2 linked regions of the Homo sapiens genome follow. The protein of the gene in region 1 interacts with the protein of each later gene in a pairwise test. Each region holds a gene or a part of one and is shown on either strand. Other genes may lie near its edges.

Region 1 (7,978 bases):
AGATTACTGTTATTTCACAACAAGGGGAAATGTGAAGTTAGGATCACAGAAACAAAGAAGTGTAGCTAAGAATAACCGAGAATTACAGCTAGGAAAGATATCAGGAAAATGGGGCTGGAGGTGGCACACGAAAGGGATAGGAAAACATGCTGAGACTTCTAAAATTAGGAATAAAACAAAACCAATAATACCAATAAATGTGACACATATTGGTATGAGTCATAGGTTAAGGGCAGCCACCCTGAGAAGAAAACTAGAATGTATAACTTTTAAACCAACAGAAAAAAAACCCTCAGTATACTAAATAGAACACAGTTACGGAGGGGAAATGCCAGCAATAAAAAACACAATAAATACATGTGCACCAGGCACAGTGGCTCACGCCTGTAATCCCTGCACTTTGGGAGGCCAAGGCAGGAGGATCGCTTGAGCTCAGGAGTTCAAGACCAGCCTGGGCAATATAGGCAGACCCCATCTCTACAGACAAATATAGAAAATTAGCCCAGTGGGTGGCGCATGCTTGTAGTCCTGGCTACTCGGAGGCTGAGGCAGTAAGATGGCCTGAGCCCAGGAGTTAGAGGCTGCAGTGAGCTATGACCACGCGGCTGCACTCCAACCTGGGCAACAGAGGAAGACCCCATATCTTAAAAAAAATAAATAGATAGGCTGGGCACGGTGGCTCATGCCTGTAATCCCAGCACTATGGGAGGCAGAGGTGGGTGGATCACAAGGTCAGGAGATTGAGACCATCCTGGCTAACAAGGTGAAACCTCGTCTCTACTAAAAATACAAAAAAAAAAAAAAAAAAAAAAAAAAAAACTAGCTGGGCGTGGTGGCGGGCGCCTATAGTCCCAGTTACTCGGGAGGCTGAAGCAGGAGAACGGTATGAACCCAGGAGGAGGAGCTTGCATCAAGCCGAGACCGTGCCACTGCACTACAGCCTGGGCGACAGAGAAAAAATAAATAAATAAAAATAAATAAATAATAAATAAAAAAGATGGCAGAGCTAAATCCTAAACAGTAGTAATTACAATAAAAGTGAACTACTAAACTTATCACATAAATCACTGAAACTCCCAGGTTGGATTTTAAAATATCAAATAATATACACTATTTTCAAAAGACAATGTTAAATGTAAAGATTAAAAATAAAACGTGCTGTATCTGCGAAGAAAGGCTACTTTTTAATTTTTTTTGTATTTGTTTCTTTTAGCGACTACAATATGCTTTATTGTTCTTAGAAAGGACTCAGGGTTTGGCTTTAAATCAGGCTGCACGCTTTTCATCAGTCTCGCATCGCTCTCCCCATGCCAAGCTGGCTCTAGCTAGCAATGTCGCATTAAATCCCAGGGCAACCTTCAGGAACTTCCAGAAGCCTCCCCTCTCCTGACCCCCTGCAGTCCAAGACCCCCATATTTGCCCACACCCCTGCTTAGGGTCCAGCCCTAGAACTCACTGCCCCGCCCCAACCTGCCCTGGACCAGCCTGGCAGCAGGAGCAGAGGCTGGAGGCAAACACCCAACTTCGCGCCAGCACCTGTGCCACTGGGGACCAGGAGCCCAGGGTGTGACACACCCAGAGGAAGCAGAGAGCCGCTGCGTGAGTCACCCTGGCCCTCAAGGCTGTCACAGCTCCAGTAGCCCTGCCCCGCCCACTTGCAACTCCAGGCCATGGGGCAGGAAATGCTTGAATCCTTGCTACCTCTCAGACCCCAACCCTTCTTTTCTCCTCTTTCCTCCTGGCCCGGTTATCTTTTCCCATTTCCATTCCCACTTTCAGACTCGTTCTTTCTTTGCTTAAAAGGCAAGTATTTCAGCCATGCGCGGTGGCTCACGCCTGTAATACCAGCACTTTGGGAGGCCAAGGCGGGCGGATCATGAGATCAGGAGTTCGAGACCAGCCTAGCCAACATAGTGAAACCCCATCTCGACTAAAAATACAAAAAACTAGCCGGGCATGGTGGGGATGCCTGTAATCCTAGCCACTCAGGAGGCTGAGGCAGGAAAATCGCTTGAACCCGGGAGGCGGAGGTTGCAGCGAGCCTAGATCACACCACTGCACACCAGCCCGGGCGATAGTATGAGACAACGTCTCAAAAAAAAAAAAAGGCAAGAAAAAGACAAGATTTTCCTGGCCCTGGTGCACTCTAGGCTCAGTCAAACCAACTGAAGACAGCAGTTTGCTGTCCGTCATCACACTATGTTTTCTAGAAGATTCTATCCTGATGAAGCACCCCCCAGACTGGTTGAAAACCAAAGTTACTCTTCCTTGGAAAATCTTTGTGGACACCCAGGTGGAGATTCAAATTTCCAAGTTGGGGCCAGGCGAAGTGGCTCACGCCTGTAATCCCAACACTTTGGGAGGCCGAGGCAGGCAGATCACCTGAGGCCGGGAGTTCGAGATCAGCCTGGCCAACACGGTGAGACCCTGTCTCTATTAAAATTGCAAAAATTAGCCGGGGGTGGTGGCAGGTGCCTCTAATCCCAGCTACTCGGGAGGCTGAGGGAAGAGAATCGCTTGAACCCGGGTGGCAGAGATTGTAGTGAGCTGAGATCGTCCCATTGCACTCCAGTCTGGGCGACAGAGTGAGACTGTCTCAAAAACAAACAAACCGGAAAACAACAAATAAAACCCAACAACTAAAAAAGGCAAAAAAAAAAAAAAATTACCAACCTCGATGCTGCCACCTTCAGGCCGCTGGGGGTTACAACCTCCGCTCCAGCTCCCCTCTGAACCTGTGCTATTCTTCTGAGTCCCATTCACTCCCACAACTGTCTCATTCATTCACTGGTTCACTCAGCTTCCAACCACCCTTACATCACGTCAGGCTCACCAGGTGATGGAGAGAAAAATCATCCTCTGTGGGTCTGAAAAACATGCCTGAGTCTTGATGGTGGGTCTTGTTTTCATTTCCTCCCCATCACAGCGCCCCCAGGGCCATGAAGAGGCCATGGCCTGGGCTCAGAGATCCAGCTCTCCTCAGGGTGGGCCTGGCAGTTGCTGACTTCAGGGAGAGCTGGAGGCCTCACAACTGAAATAGGAGACCTGCCCTGGGTCCTTAGCATGTGCAAGGACAGGGTTCCTTGTAGAATCTGCTCATTTCATCTGTGTTCATAGCATTTGTCATTTTCCACATGCAGACATCCATTCCTAGAAAGCTGAAGAAGCTTGCACAGGAATATTCAGCCACAATATCAGCTGACTTCCATATCTGAATGCATGATCTCTAGATCCCGGCCATTACAATAACATTTGGGCCACTTCTATCCCCATCCTGGGCAGGCCTGAGTCTGTTGGCCAGATGCCTGCAGCAGGGGTGAGTCAGGAGGGCCCAGGTGTGCACAAAAGCCCCTCCTCCTGTCCTGCTTGGGGCTCTCCTGCCAGCCTCCTTCTACCTTCCTCCTGTTCCCCCAGTCACTGGCCCAGGTCACCTGGCCTCGGGGTGGTGCTGCCAGGGCCTTCCCAGAGGCCTCCTCCCAGGACTAACCTGGGCTCCTGCCCCCAGCCCTGTACATGGGAGGCTCTTCTCACACACAGATCCTGGGACCCGCCAAGCTCTGCCCCTCCCAAATCTGAGAACTGCCCACCCTTGTGTGTCTGTTGTCCTCCAAACTACCCTCCACATGGCCCCTCCTGCACAGGGGCTCTAGTGCATCAGGCCAGAATCTTCTAGGCTCCTGTGTCCCTGCTCAGTCACAGAGGTGGCTGCCCTCCCATGACTCTGTCCTGAAGCAGAAACAGGCCCTGGGCTTTGTCCAGGCCTCCTCCTCTTTCCCACAGCCTCAGGACCCTCGGGATTGATGATCACCAGGTGCAGGTGATCCCAACATGAAGACTGTACGGAGTGGGAGGTCTGTGCCGATTTTTCTCATTCAATAGGGAATGGGCTGAGTGGCTGGGGCCTGAGTGGCACTCAAGATCTCTGTCCACTCCTCATCCCAGGCTAAAGCCCTCCCTTGCGGCCAAGGGCCACTGGGCCCATCACCTCCCTCTGGCTTCTGCCCACAGATCTAGATGTTTCCATGGTGACTGAGACGAGGATACACTCGGGTTGCCGCTTTGAGGATGGCTGCAGTCACCATCCAGGGACAGGGCAGAGATGCGCGTGCAGCCATGGATTTGCGTGTAGCTGGCCACAGATGGGTGTACAGCAAAGTGAGCCCCACGCATGCGTAGACCCTCCCTCGGCTTCTGCTCTCCATGGAAACACAATTGATCATTTGATCACTGATCACGGTAGGCCACTAGGGCTTTCTTTTCTTTCTTTTTTTTCCCAGAAGTCATAAAGGGATATAGAATATACTTTATTCTATATATATTCTATATATTCCTCATGCTTTTAGTGGAGAGGCAAAGAAGGTCTGCTCCGGACTGGGAAGCAGCTGCGCCCTGGACGGAGAGGGGCGGGGACTCCTTGGCGCAGGCTGAAGGAGGGCAGGTGTCGCTGGCGGAGGCAGTGACGGGGGGACACAGCCGCCACTGGATATCCCTGTGCAAGTTTCTTCGCTTTCCTGTGCATCAGTGCTTACATTGGGGTAATAATAAATGGTGTGTTAAAAAATTAAATGAGGCGGTCAAGAAGGAATCGTGTCCTGGCCCGCGCGGAGCCTGGGGTGGAGGGTAAGGGTTGGCCAGAGGGGGCCGCTGTCAGGCCACGAGCCCGGGGCGGGACGAAGCGGAGCCACAGCAGGCATAGGCTCCCCGGGTCCCAGCCTGGGGTGGGGCGGGGAAGGGCGGGACGGGGCGGGATAGGGCGGAGCATCCCTCCAAACGTGGGCAGGCGTAGGCTCCCCTGGATCCCGGGGCGGGACGGGACCGGACGGGGCCGAGCACACTCAATCACTAGCTGGCATGCGAGGGCCGAAGTGATTCATACGCTGGTCTCCACATCGACTGCGCCTTGTGTCCCGGGCGCTCCTGGTCTACAATGGCAGCGGCCGCCAGCCCCGCGATCCTTCCGCGCCTCGCGATTCTTCCGTACCTGCTATTCGACTGGTCCGGGACGGGGCGGGCCGGTGAGTTCGGGGATGGAGCCTAAGCGGGGCGGGGGCCAAACCTGGGGGGCTGTGGACTGCAGCGGGTTTCAGAGGAGGGAAGCCTTCTAGAAGGACCGGCGCGATCTCCCCGGACTGCCCCCACGCTCAGTTCCGATTCGCTGCTCTTTTTCGCCAGGTCCGCTTCCTGCGGCTGCTGCTTGCCCTGCAGAGCAGGAGGGGGGTCAAAGAAGGCGAAAAAAGAACCGCAGGAGGGTGGAGGGGCCAAAAAGCTGCAGAGGGCGAGGTGGGGAGGGGATCCCTGGTGCAACCCCGCAGCCCCACTCGTCCTCGGGAAGGAGAAACCAGAGCCCCCGGAACCCGAGCTGGGGTCAAGACATGGGTGACGCCAGCGTCATATAGAATAGTCACTAAGCAGACAGGAGTCAGCAAACCCTTTCTAGAAAGGAAAGGCTGAAGGCACTTTGGTCCTTGCTGGCCGTGAGTTCTCTGTCTCTGTGTCAAGTCCCGTCCCTTTGTAGAGCAACAGCAGGCAATGGCAACCTGCAAGTAAAAGAGAAACCTGAAATGGACCCTGTCCTAGGTTGCAGACTCCAGATGAGGGCACATGCTGTGTCCTGGCAATTGCTGCCCCATCCCCTAGGGTGTCATCTCTAAGTTGTGTAAGTTGAAGAGTCACAAGTGTGTCCTACCCTGCCTGTGGCTTCTGGGAGGTGTGGATGTGATGAATGTGAGGGGGAGTCCCATGGTTCGGGGCCTACTGCTCCCCTCCTTTGTTGCTGAGTAGCATTAACGGTCCCCAGGGGCCATTCAGGGACCCTCCCTGAAGCCTCAGGTGTGACCTGAGGGTGGGGGGGTGTAGCCATGTGGTGTCCTGGGGATCAGAGCCAACTGCTTGTGCAGCTTCTTGGTTCCCTGTGGCCCTGCTCCTGCCCATCCCAGGAGACCCACCTGTGTCTTCTCACTGTGGGGCCTATCTTCCTAATGACCTAAAGGGTGAGGAGCACACCCTGTGATGGGCAGCTCTGAGGCTGTGTGGTCACTGCCCTCCCATAGCTGGAGGCCCATCTCCACAGGGGCCCAGGACCACAGCAGGAGCCACTTTTAAATGAGGGGATTTCACTGCTGTGAGTGGCACAGCTTTGCTTCTGAGCACTAGGGGACCCTGTTGGATTCTGTGGTTGGGAATAGCCATGAAATCCACATAGCACCTTTTCCAACCACACATGCTTCTGGGATCTTAGGGAGTCCAGGGTCAAATAGCTGTAGTGGCAGGTCCAGCCACACCCCTCATCACAGAGTGTGTATGGCTGCATCCCAGCTATAAGAGCAGAGTTGAGTAGTGACAGGGGAGGTCATATGACCAGCACAAACTATAATAGTTACTACATTAACTACAAACACTATCCATTCCCGGTAGAAATCCAGGAAATGTGAAATTACCATTGAATGGGTCTATGAACCCAGCACATCCCTCTAAGCTGGACCTGACACAGAAGTCCATCTGTTACTTTGCCCCAAATGCACCTCATGAGTAACAGGGGAGCAAGTTAATGCTTCACATCCCTGGGAAGAGCTCGGATCACACACTGTGTCCACTAGGAGTGTCTGAGTATTTGCTGTTTCATGGTGTACAGTTACCAGAGTGACTACCCATCTGGCTCTGTGGGGGAGGCTGAAGGAGTCATTGCAATTGCTGTGGGGTTGAAGGAGCCCACCAGGGGCTCTGGGCTCTCCTTCTAGTAATGGACTCTGCGTCTGAGATGTGGCTCAGTTCTCAAAGCTGGGCGAGGGAGCTCAGTTATTTCCCGGGGTGACAACTTTCAGCCTCCTGGTCATCCATCCTTGCATTTTGTCTTTGTGGTAATTATTTAAATCTAGTAGTATCCGGGTGGAGTCTCCATCTCTTTTGGATCTTGGACCCTTTTGTTCTATGAGCCATGGGCATAGCTTTGTAAGACTGAGGACCCCAGCTAGCATTGTGACTTCTCTAATTATTTCCATCATTGCACCCTCCTTCCTGCTGACAGTTGACGGCCTCCACTTGAGATCTCTTATTTCAGGATTTTCCATCCCCATTACTACTGGGAGCCCATTTCAGGAAGAGCATCTCCTACCCCTGACCCTGGGCTTCAGCAACAGGCATCCCTGAGCTTCTTGACAGTCTGCTGCCTTCTCCTGGGGCCTTCTTTATATGCTAGGTAAACAGGAGTCTTCCAGGCTTCCCTTGAGCACAGAGGGTGAACATTGTTCTGGATTTTCATACTGCAGTCACTCTGGCATGGGCACTTCTCTTAGTATTTTGTTCCTTCCTGTACAACCTGCCACGTAAGACCTGGGTTTTCTGTTTCATGCGGTGTGGGTCATTCCTTTTTCCAAGGTTCCAAGGGCAACCTACTAGCAGCTGACCACATTCCAGGGAACTTACCATGTCTTGTTACCCATAATAAATGAACTCATCCTTATCCAATGTTAACTACATCGTACCCACTGCACCACGCTCCAACATCCTCAGGGTGCCCTCCCACACTCTCCCGCCTCTTGCAGTCCACCTGGGCTGCTCCTGCAGATCCTGCCATCTAAGTCCTTCTTCCTGTAGTGGGCCTGCCACCTCCCTGGCAGGGTCCTGTGCTGACGGATGTGAGTATAGGCCTGGGCAGAGTGGGGAGATAGACATGTTAGCGACCCATGGTTCCTCCACAGGCAGAGACCACCGTCCAGGAAGAGAAATCCATGCTCTGCCAGCCCAGCCCTTCAGGAAACCCTCTTGCTGTCACAGTGTTTGGGGTCTTTCCCCCACCCCAACACTCTCTGGTGTTTTTTTTTTTTTTCCTTAGACGCTCACTCTCTCTGGTATAACTTCACCATCATTCATTTGCCCAGACATGGGCAACAGTGGTGTGAGGTCCAGAGCCAGGTGGATCAGAAGAATTTTCTCTCCTATGACTGTGGCAGTGACAAGGTCTTATCTATGGGTCACCTAG
Region 2 (7,622 bases), on another chromosome or scaffold:
TTGGAGAATCATGCATGTTTGCAGTGAAATTGTTCTATGGTTTGGTCCTGTGGAGTCTAAGAAATCTGACAGTCTTTGGTCATTTTGTCCTGTTTTTGTTTGTTTCCTTTAGTCTCAGTTGGCAGTGTTACCGCTGGTGTAATCTCTTCTCTGTTCCTGGCTTTTATTGAGATGGTTGATCATCTTTACACAGTCCTTTGCATGCAGATGTACGTATTTGGAGTTGAACAGTTTTCTATATAGCCTTTAAAGCTCGAGGCATAGAGTGCACAGTCTCCCTTCTGCATTTCAATTATTGTTAGTCTAGAGGAGAGACAATTACAAATTACATACATGATTTTATTAACGCGGGAAAATAAAAATGAATCATACCTATTGAACTTCAAATACAGGAACTTAATACCATTTTAGGAGATTATGGACCATGCCTGGTCCTAATTCATAAACAAAATATAGCCAACTCAGATAATAAAAATAAAAATTATAAATAATGCGCCACTCTTTTTATCATACATCAGAAACTAGCCAATTCTGAAGTCTAAAATCTCTTCATATGTATACCCAAGTTAAATGAAAACTTTAGAATGTTTATTTTAAAACAAATATTTAAGTGAGAAATAAATTCAGTGTTCAATTTAGAATTTGATACTGTGTTTTGTGGAAAAATAAAACATTTTCTTCAGATATATGCAATTTTACTTGGTAAGGAAATGAAAATAAAATTTCAAATCTAATACATACATACACACATTCACAAGTGTGTATAAGTGTGTGTGTGTGTGTGTGTGCATATGTTTAGGCATTCCATGTGGAGATTTCTATATCTATATATGTGTTTTACTCTGGCATCTTTAATCTTTTGGAGTTATATGATTAATAATGATACTTTGTTTTCTTTCATAAGAGATGGGAAATAGAAAGCTCAAGAAAGAGTGAGGATGTCACTTCAATGTAAAATTGACAAAAAAATAAAAAGATTATGGTCTGATGCTATCCCTATTTAAAAAGACGATGTAATGATCTCTGTTCTGTAACTGAACAATCGGCCACTGTAGGGAGAAAACTATTCTTAAAGAGTTTTTGTTTTGTTGTTTGTTTGTTTTTAGACAGAATCTTGCTCCGCTGCCAAGGCTGGAGTGCACTGGTTCAATCTCGGCTCACTGCAAACTCTGCCTCCCAAGTTCAAGTGATTCTCCTGTGTCAGTTTCGTAAGTAGCTGGGATTACAGGCATGTGCCACCACATCCGGCTAATTTTTTTATTTTTAGTAGAGATGGTGTTTCACTACGTTGCCAGGCTGGTTATAAACTCCTGACCTAAAGCAATACACCCACCTCGGCCTCCCAAAGTGCTGGGATTACAGGTGTGAGCCACTGCACCCGGCCCCAGCTGAGATTTTTTAATAACTGCTCTTACTAGGTTCAGTCTACATTAGAGTCTCGTTCTTTTTTTCTTTCTTTCCTCTCTCTCTTTTTTTTTTTTTTGACAGTGTTTTGCTCTTGTCAGCCAGGCTGGAGTGCAGTGGCGCAATCTCGGCTCACTGCAACCTCCACCTCCTGGGTTCAAGCAATTCTGCTGCCCCTCAGCCTCAGGAGTAGCTGGGGTTACAGGCACTTGCCACCACATCTGGCTAATTTTTGTATTTTTAGTAAAGATGAGCTTTCACCATGTTGGCCAAGCTGGACTTGAACTCCTGACCTCAGGTCCTCCCAAAGTGCTGGGATCACAGGCGTGAGCCACTGCACCCGGCCTCATTCTTTTTAATATCACTTTGTCCATGTGTTCCTTCGATTTCTTTCTCTGTTTTTTCATACTACTTTCATTACACTTCTGCCAGAGTACCTAACTAACTACACTGGATTATTTGTTTGTAACTACATCTCTGACTAGAGTTTGAAGCTCTAAAATGAGTTTTATTCTACTCATCTCTGTAGTTATCTCTGCATAATTCCTGGAAATTGTGCAGTAATCAACCAATATTTACTACATGCATAAACAGAAAGTTAGTATGCTAGTTGTTTTGCTTCTGAAAAAAAATTTTGTCCTTGTAGATAGGAAAATATTGAGAAACTATGATATAAACTCTTATTTTTTAGAGAATCAATGTTTTTTCTGTTAAAAAAACTCTCAAGCCATACATAAATGAGGCCATCCTGGATCAATTCTAAGGTATACTGGGGCTTCCAAATTACAAATAGATAATAAGGAAGGAAGGTAGGGAGTTCTTGCTACAATAAACACAAGGGGAAAATTGAAAATAACACATGAGAGTAAAAGGTTGTGCATTGATCATTGCCAATTAATCATTAAAGTAGCAAAGTAAATTTAAAAATCAGCGAAAAGAGCACTTTTTTAGTCATTTAATAGTAAGTCTGGCTCCAGAGCCAGAAATATATATATTTGAGTCCTCATTGCAACAATTATTCATTTTGTAACTTAAGTGAGTTATTTAACATGTTAAGATTCTGTTGTATACCATTAGAATTAGGTTAAAATAACACCTGTATACAGGATTGTTAAGTATATTTAATGAAAGGATACATTTAAGTGCTTAAATCTGTGTCTGACAGACAGGAAGCACCTAATTAACCTAATTTTAACATTGATATTGTTGTGACTTTTTATTACATTGAAGAATTGGAAATTCAAATATCTAAAGTCCCCTTGAAATAAAGAATTATAATATTTACAATCTAGAGGACTTCTGCAATATTTGTGATATTATGAGACTGAAAAAAGGAAAAGCAGTAGTGACAAAATGCTTAGGTTTCATTCCTGATCGTTGTAGCTGAATGAAGAAATTACTGAACAGTGTAGTGACAGGTCAGATCTTTCAAATGGTAGAAATGACCTTTCTTGAATACTCTAGCATTAATCTGGAGAATTACAACTATATTCATAAGATCAGTGAACATTAAGATGTTGTCACTTAGTCTGGGTGTGCTGAATTGCTCTGTGCAATCAAGTGGGTAAAAGAGCAGGCTATAAAAACTACAGACATGGGACACTTCAGAATCCAGAAAGACCAAGCTGTAGTTCACCGGACACAGAAATGGAGATAAGAGATTTGAAGAAATAAAGAAATGTAAAGATATGCAGAAGGTCACCTTTGAATATTCAGCAGAGTACTTACTAATGCATGTATGTAAAAAACTACTCCAGGATGGAGAAAGAACTGTCTGAAAAGATTTAGGGTAAACAATACTTAGTGCTAACATAGGGTCTAGTATTTTGCCTGTTTCTACCAGCCATATTACAAAACTTTGTATTTCAAAGGTTATCACATAGAATACATAGAAAACAGCAGAATAAACATTTCTGATCAAATACACCTAAAACATTTTTAAAAACACACTATAGTCTAGTCCATAACACTGATGTCAATAAATTTAAGTTTTAAATTATACAAAATAATTCGCTAATGAAAATGAAATTAAATTAGAAATCAATAATAAAAATGTCTGAAAAATTCACAAATGTTGAAAACTAAATGACACATGTAAATAATCAATGAATCAAAGAATGCAAAAGACAATTTAGAAACTATTTTTAACTGAATGGAAACAAAAAGTAGTATCTCAAAATATGACGGGATGTTGCCAAATCATCTCACATATTAATAGTATAACTTTTATTAGAAAAAAAGGTTTCAAATCAACATATCAGCTTTCAATATAAGAAACTAAAAAAGCAAATTTAACCTACTATAAGAAGACAGTAAATAATAAAGATCAAAGCAGAAATCAGTGAGAAGAAAATTTTTACCTAAATGGCAAATAAGCACACACAAAAAAATGCTACTTAACATCATTGCATTAGTAAAATGCAAGTTAAAACTACATTCATATACCAAAACACATCATTTAGTGTGTCTGAAATTTACTTATTTATTTATTTATTTATTTATGAGACAGGGTCTTGCTCTGTCACTCAGGCTGGAGTGCAGCGGCGCAATCTCGGCTCACTGCAACCTCCGTCTCCCGGGTTCAAGCCATTCCCCTGCCTCAGCCTCCCGAGTAGCTGGGATTACAGACACCTGCCACCCCGTCCAGCTAATTTTTGTATTTTTAGTAGAGACAGGGTTTCACTGCATTGGCCAGGTTGGTCTTGAACTCATGACCTCAAGTGATCTGCCTGCCTCGGCCTCCCAAAGTGCTGGGATTATAGGCATAAACCACTGCACCCAGCCAGTATAAAATTTAAGAGGCTGATCAAAACAAGTGTTGACTAGGATGTGAAGCAACTTCTCTGTCAGATTTTCTCTTACATACTGCTAGGTAGAAAGTAAAATTTGTAAAATATCATCACCACTTTGGATAACAGTGTGGCACTTTAAAAAAAGTTAAGTATATACTTATATGATTCAGCCATTTTGTTTCTAGGTGTTTATGTTAAGGGAAAGAAAGATTTCGTTAATATGATACAAATACTTGTACACAAATATTATTAGCAAGTAGCATTATTTGTAATGATCAATAACTGGGAATTACCTAAATATACATCAATAAATGAAGAGATAAAAGGAAATTAACTCTTTACTCATGCAATGAGATGGCTGAATCTCAAGATAACTTTTCTAAGTGAAAATAAGACATTGCAAATGATATATATTGTAGGACTTCATTTATATTAAATTCTATGAATTGCAAACTAATCTAAAGTGACAGAAAACTGATTGACTGGAAAGAGAAAGAGGTAAGGACATAGGGACACAGAGGAGAAATCACAAAGGTGCATGCTTAGAGAATGTTTTCCAGGTAATTTATATGTTAACTATCTTGATGTTCTTTATGTTTTCATGGGCTCATATAGTTCTCGAGACTTATCAAATTGTATACTTTATATATGTGCAATTTATTATATGTTAATTATATCTCAACATGTCTGGTAATAAATTCAAAAAGAAATGTATGTAATATTTAACCTCTCTGTTTCTGTCTCTTTATCTGTAAAACGAACATATTAGACCTGCCTTCCACAGTACTTACCATATAGTAAACAATTTGTATTACTTACTAGTATTTGTGTTGGCTGCTCTACAACTAATACAACTTTCTCCCAAATTTAGGGCCTAAGCACTTTTTACTAAATCTATTAGAATGTGCAAATGTCCTGGGATTATGTGAGATGAGTGATTAGAATTATTACAGGGAAAACTTAGGAAAAAAATTAAAAAGAAGAGACTCATTGGGTCAGAGACTTACAGGTTGGGTGAGAGAATGGAGCCATCTTCCCACTGCCAAGATCCATTTGTTGGAATGTGTACTAGTCCCATCCAATGATATGACTTCACCAGTTTAAGTAAATCCTGTTTGAAACCACAAATAAACTATAAGTAAAATCAGTGTTGATAATTTTAGTAAACGCAAGACCATAACCATTTCATCTGTTCTCACACTTGTAAAAAAATGCATTCTGTCCACTAACTGGCATAATTCTCATCCGAGCACACATACATGATACCTACAATTTCTGTGCTTTGTTATTTTCAATGAAGAAAGATTTAGGGTTGGTATTAGAATAACCAAGTCACAGTGTCCCTTATATGTTCTAGGTTCATATTCCAGTGAGTTGTCTCAGATGTTAGGATTAAATACAGGATGGGAAATTAAAATAAATACTCAACCTGGTCCTCTTTGCTGTATACTTTCAGAAGGCTGGCATTTTGAGACATACAAGAAGCCTGGCTCTCATACCAGTTTTTACTCTCATCAAAAAATTGGTAGCAGTTATTTTTGTAACATATCCAGTTTTTAGGACATGGGCCACAGTAACTTTCTGGAAAAGGAGAATATATTATTAATTCTACACATCTGAACCATTATAGCAGATTTTGTCTAGACAAATTAAATGCCTTTTTCACTCCAACTCTAAAATTTCAGATTATTAAATTATTACAGTCATAACCAAAGGCATATCTCTACATATTCATAGAGAGAAGCCAGGCTGGGTGTGGTGTCTCATGCCTGTAATCCTAGCACTTTGGGAGGCCAAGGCAGGTGACTCACTTGAGGTTAGAAGTTTGATACCAGCCTGGCCAACATGGTGAAACCCTGCCTCTACTAAAAATACAAAAATTAGCCGGGTGTGGTGGCTCACGCCTGCAGTCCCAGCTACTTGGAAGCTGAGGCAGGAGAATTGCTTGAACCTAGGAGGTAGAGGTTGCAGTCCCAGGTACTTGGGAGGCTGAGGCATGAGAATTGCTTGAAACTGGGAGGCGAAGGTTGCATTGTGCTGAGATCACCCCACTGCACTCCAGCCTGGGTGACAGAGTGAGACCCCATCTCAAAAAAAAAAAAAAAAAAAAGAGAGAGAGAGAGAGAAAGATGATGTCAAACCTAAGTAGCCTCTACTTTTTACAAGTATTCCCTCATTGTTAAAAGGAAAACAGAAGCCATAGTGTATTACAGACTAGAATTAATTACTTTTTCCTTTTTTAATCATGGAATACATGTCTACACAATAATGTAGGTAGATACATATAATATATGATCTAAAATATTTTAAAAATTCACTTACCGGTCAAGGGAATTTGAACTTCTTGGTTGAATAATGCTATTAAAATAACCATAAGTATTAAAAGTTTGTATTGTTAGTAACTTATAGTATAAGCAAATATAGTTTACAAATTTCTGGACTAATAGCAAAAATGTGACAAAGATACATTTAATATTTCTAGTTTATGTGTCTGTGTTTATGAATACTAACAAAAATAATACATTAGCATTGTTAAATTGACAATGTTGCAATCTACTTCTCTGTTGTCACTTACAGTTTAGGAATACAGCACTCCATATTGTTACCATAATAATGAAACGGATTCCCATGGCTACAGCGATGAAGCAGCAGAAAAAAAATGGAGATGCTGTCAAAGAAAAAAGACACAGATCAGAGAAAGAAGCATAAAAGGTTTGGGTATCTTTGTATTTAATATAAATATTAGAGTTTTTTAAATGAGAAGGTGGTATTGATCCTTTTTCTGCCTTAATAATTTTTTCCAGAACAGAACATAAATACCTCGCAAATGATCAAAAACTAGAGTACAACAATGTAATATTTCCTTCTATACTTCTCTACAAGTTCCCCAGTCATCCCTAGAGTAAATTATGCTTATGATTTTTTGTTGTTATTGTTTTTTTTTTTTTTTTTTTTTTTTGAGACGGAGTCTCGCTCTGTCGCCCAGGCTGGAGTGCAGTGGCGCGATCTCGGCTCACTGCAAGCTCCACCTCCTGGGTTCACGCCATTCTCCTGCCTCACCCTCCCGAGTAGCTGGGACTACAGGTGCCCGCCACCACTCCCAGCTAATGTTCTGTATTTTTAGTAGAGATAGGGTTTCACCGTGTTAGCCAGGACGGTCTCGATCTCCTGACCTCGTGATCCGCCCGCCTCGGCCTCCCAAAGTGCTGGGATTACAGGCGTGAGCCACCGCACCCGGCCGTGATTTATTATTTTTATGCAGATACAATAATAAACATAAAGAAGGAGGAAGCATCATCAAGATGGCTAACTACAGGCACCCAGCACTCACTTCCACAAAGGACCAAAACAACAAGTAGATAACCACACATTGAATAGAGTGTTGAAGGGAGAAGGCTGGAATTCAGCAAGAAAGTGACCAAGTCT

The links. The genes of interacting proteins can lie anywhere in the genome.
Region 2: the proteins of ULBP3 (region 1) and KLRK1 interact in binary tests that used the Homo sapiens proteins (3 or more experiments, as listed by UniProt).

What each region holds. Positions count from the first base shown.
Region 1 is NC_000006.12:150,066,016-150,073,993, reverse strand, and holds the start of ULBP3 (UL16-binding protein 3 precursor), read left to right. Parts: upstream 1-4,872; 5' UTR 4,873-4,927; coding exon 4,928-5,015; intron 5,016-7,831; coding exon 7,832-7,978.
Region 2 is NC_000012.12:10,372,929-10,380,550, forward strand, and holds part of KLRK1 (NKG2-D type II integral membrane protein), read right to left. Parts: intron 6,909-7,622; exon of another isoform or gene 6,865-6,908; coding exon 6,772-6,864; intron 6,555-6,771; coding exon 6,519-6,554; intron 5,778-6,518; coding exon 5,626-5,777; intron 5,308-5,625; coding exon 5,204-5,307; intron 1,209-5,203; exon of another isoform or gene 1,107-1,208; intron 304-1,106; coding exon 186-303; 3' UTR 1-185. Other genes in the region: KLRC4-KLRK1 (NKG2-D type II integral membrane protein), read right to left, coding at 186-303, 5,204-5,307, 5,626-5,777, 6,519-6,554, 6,772-6,864.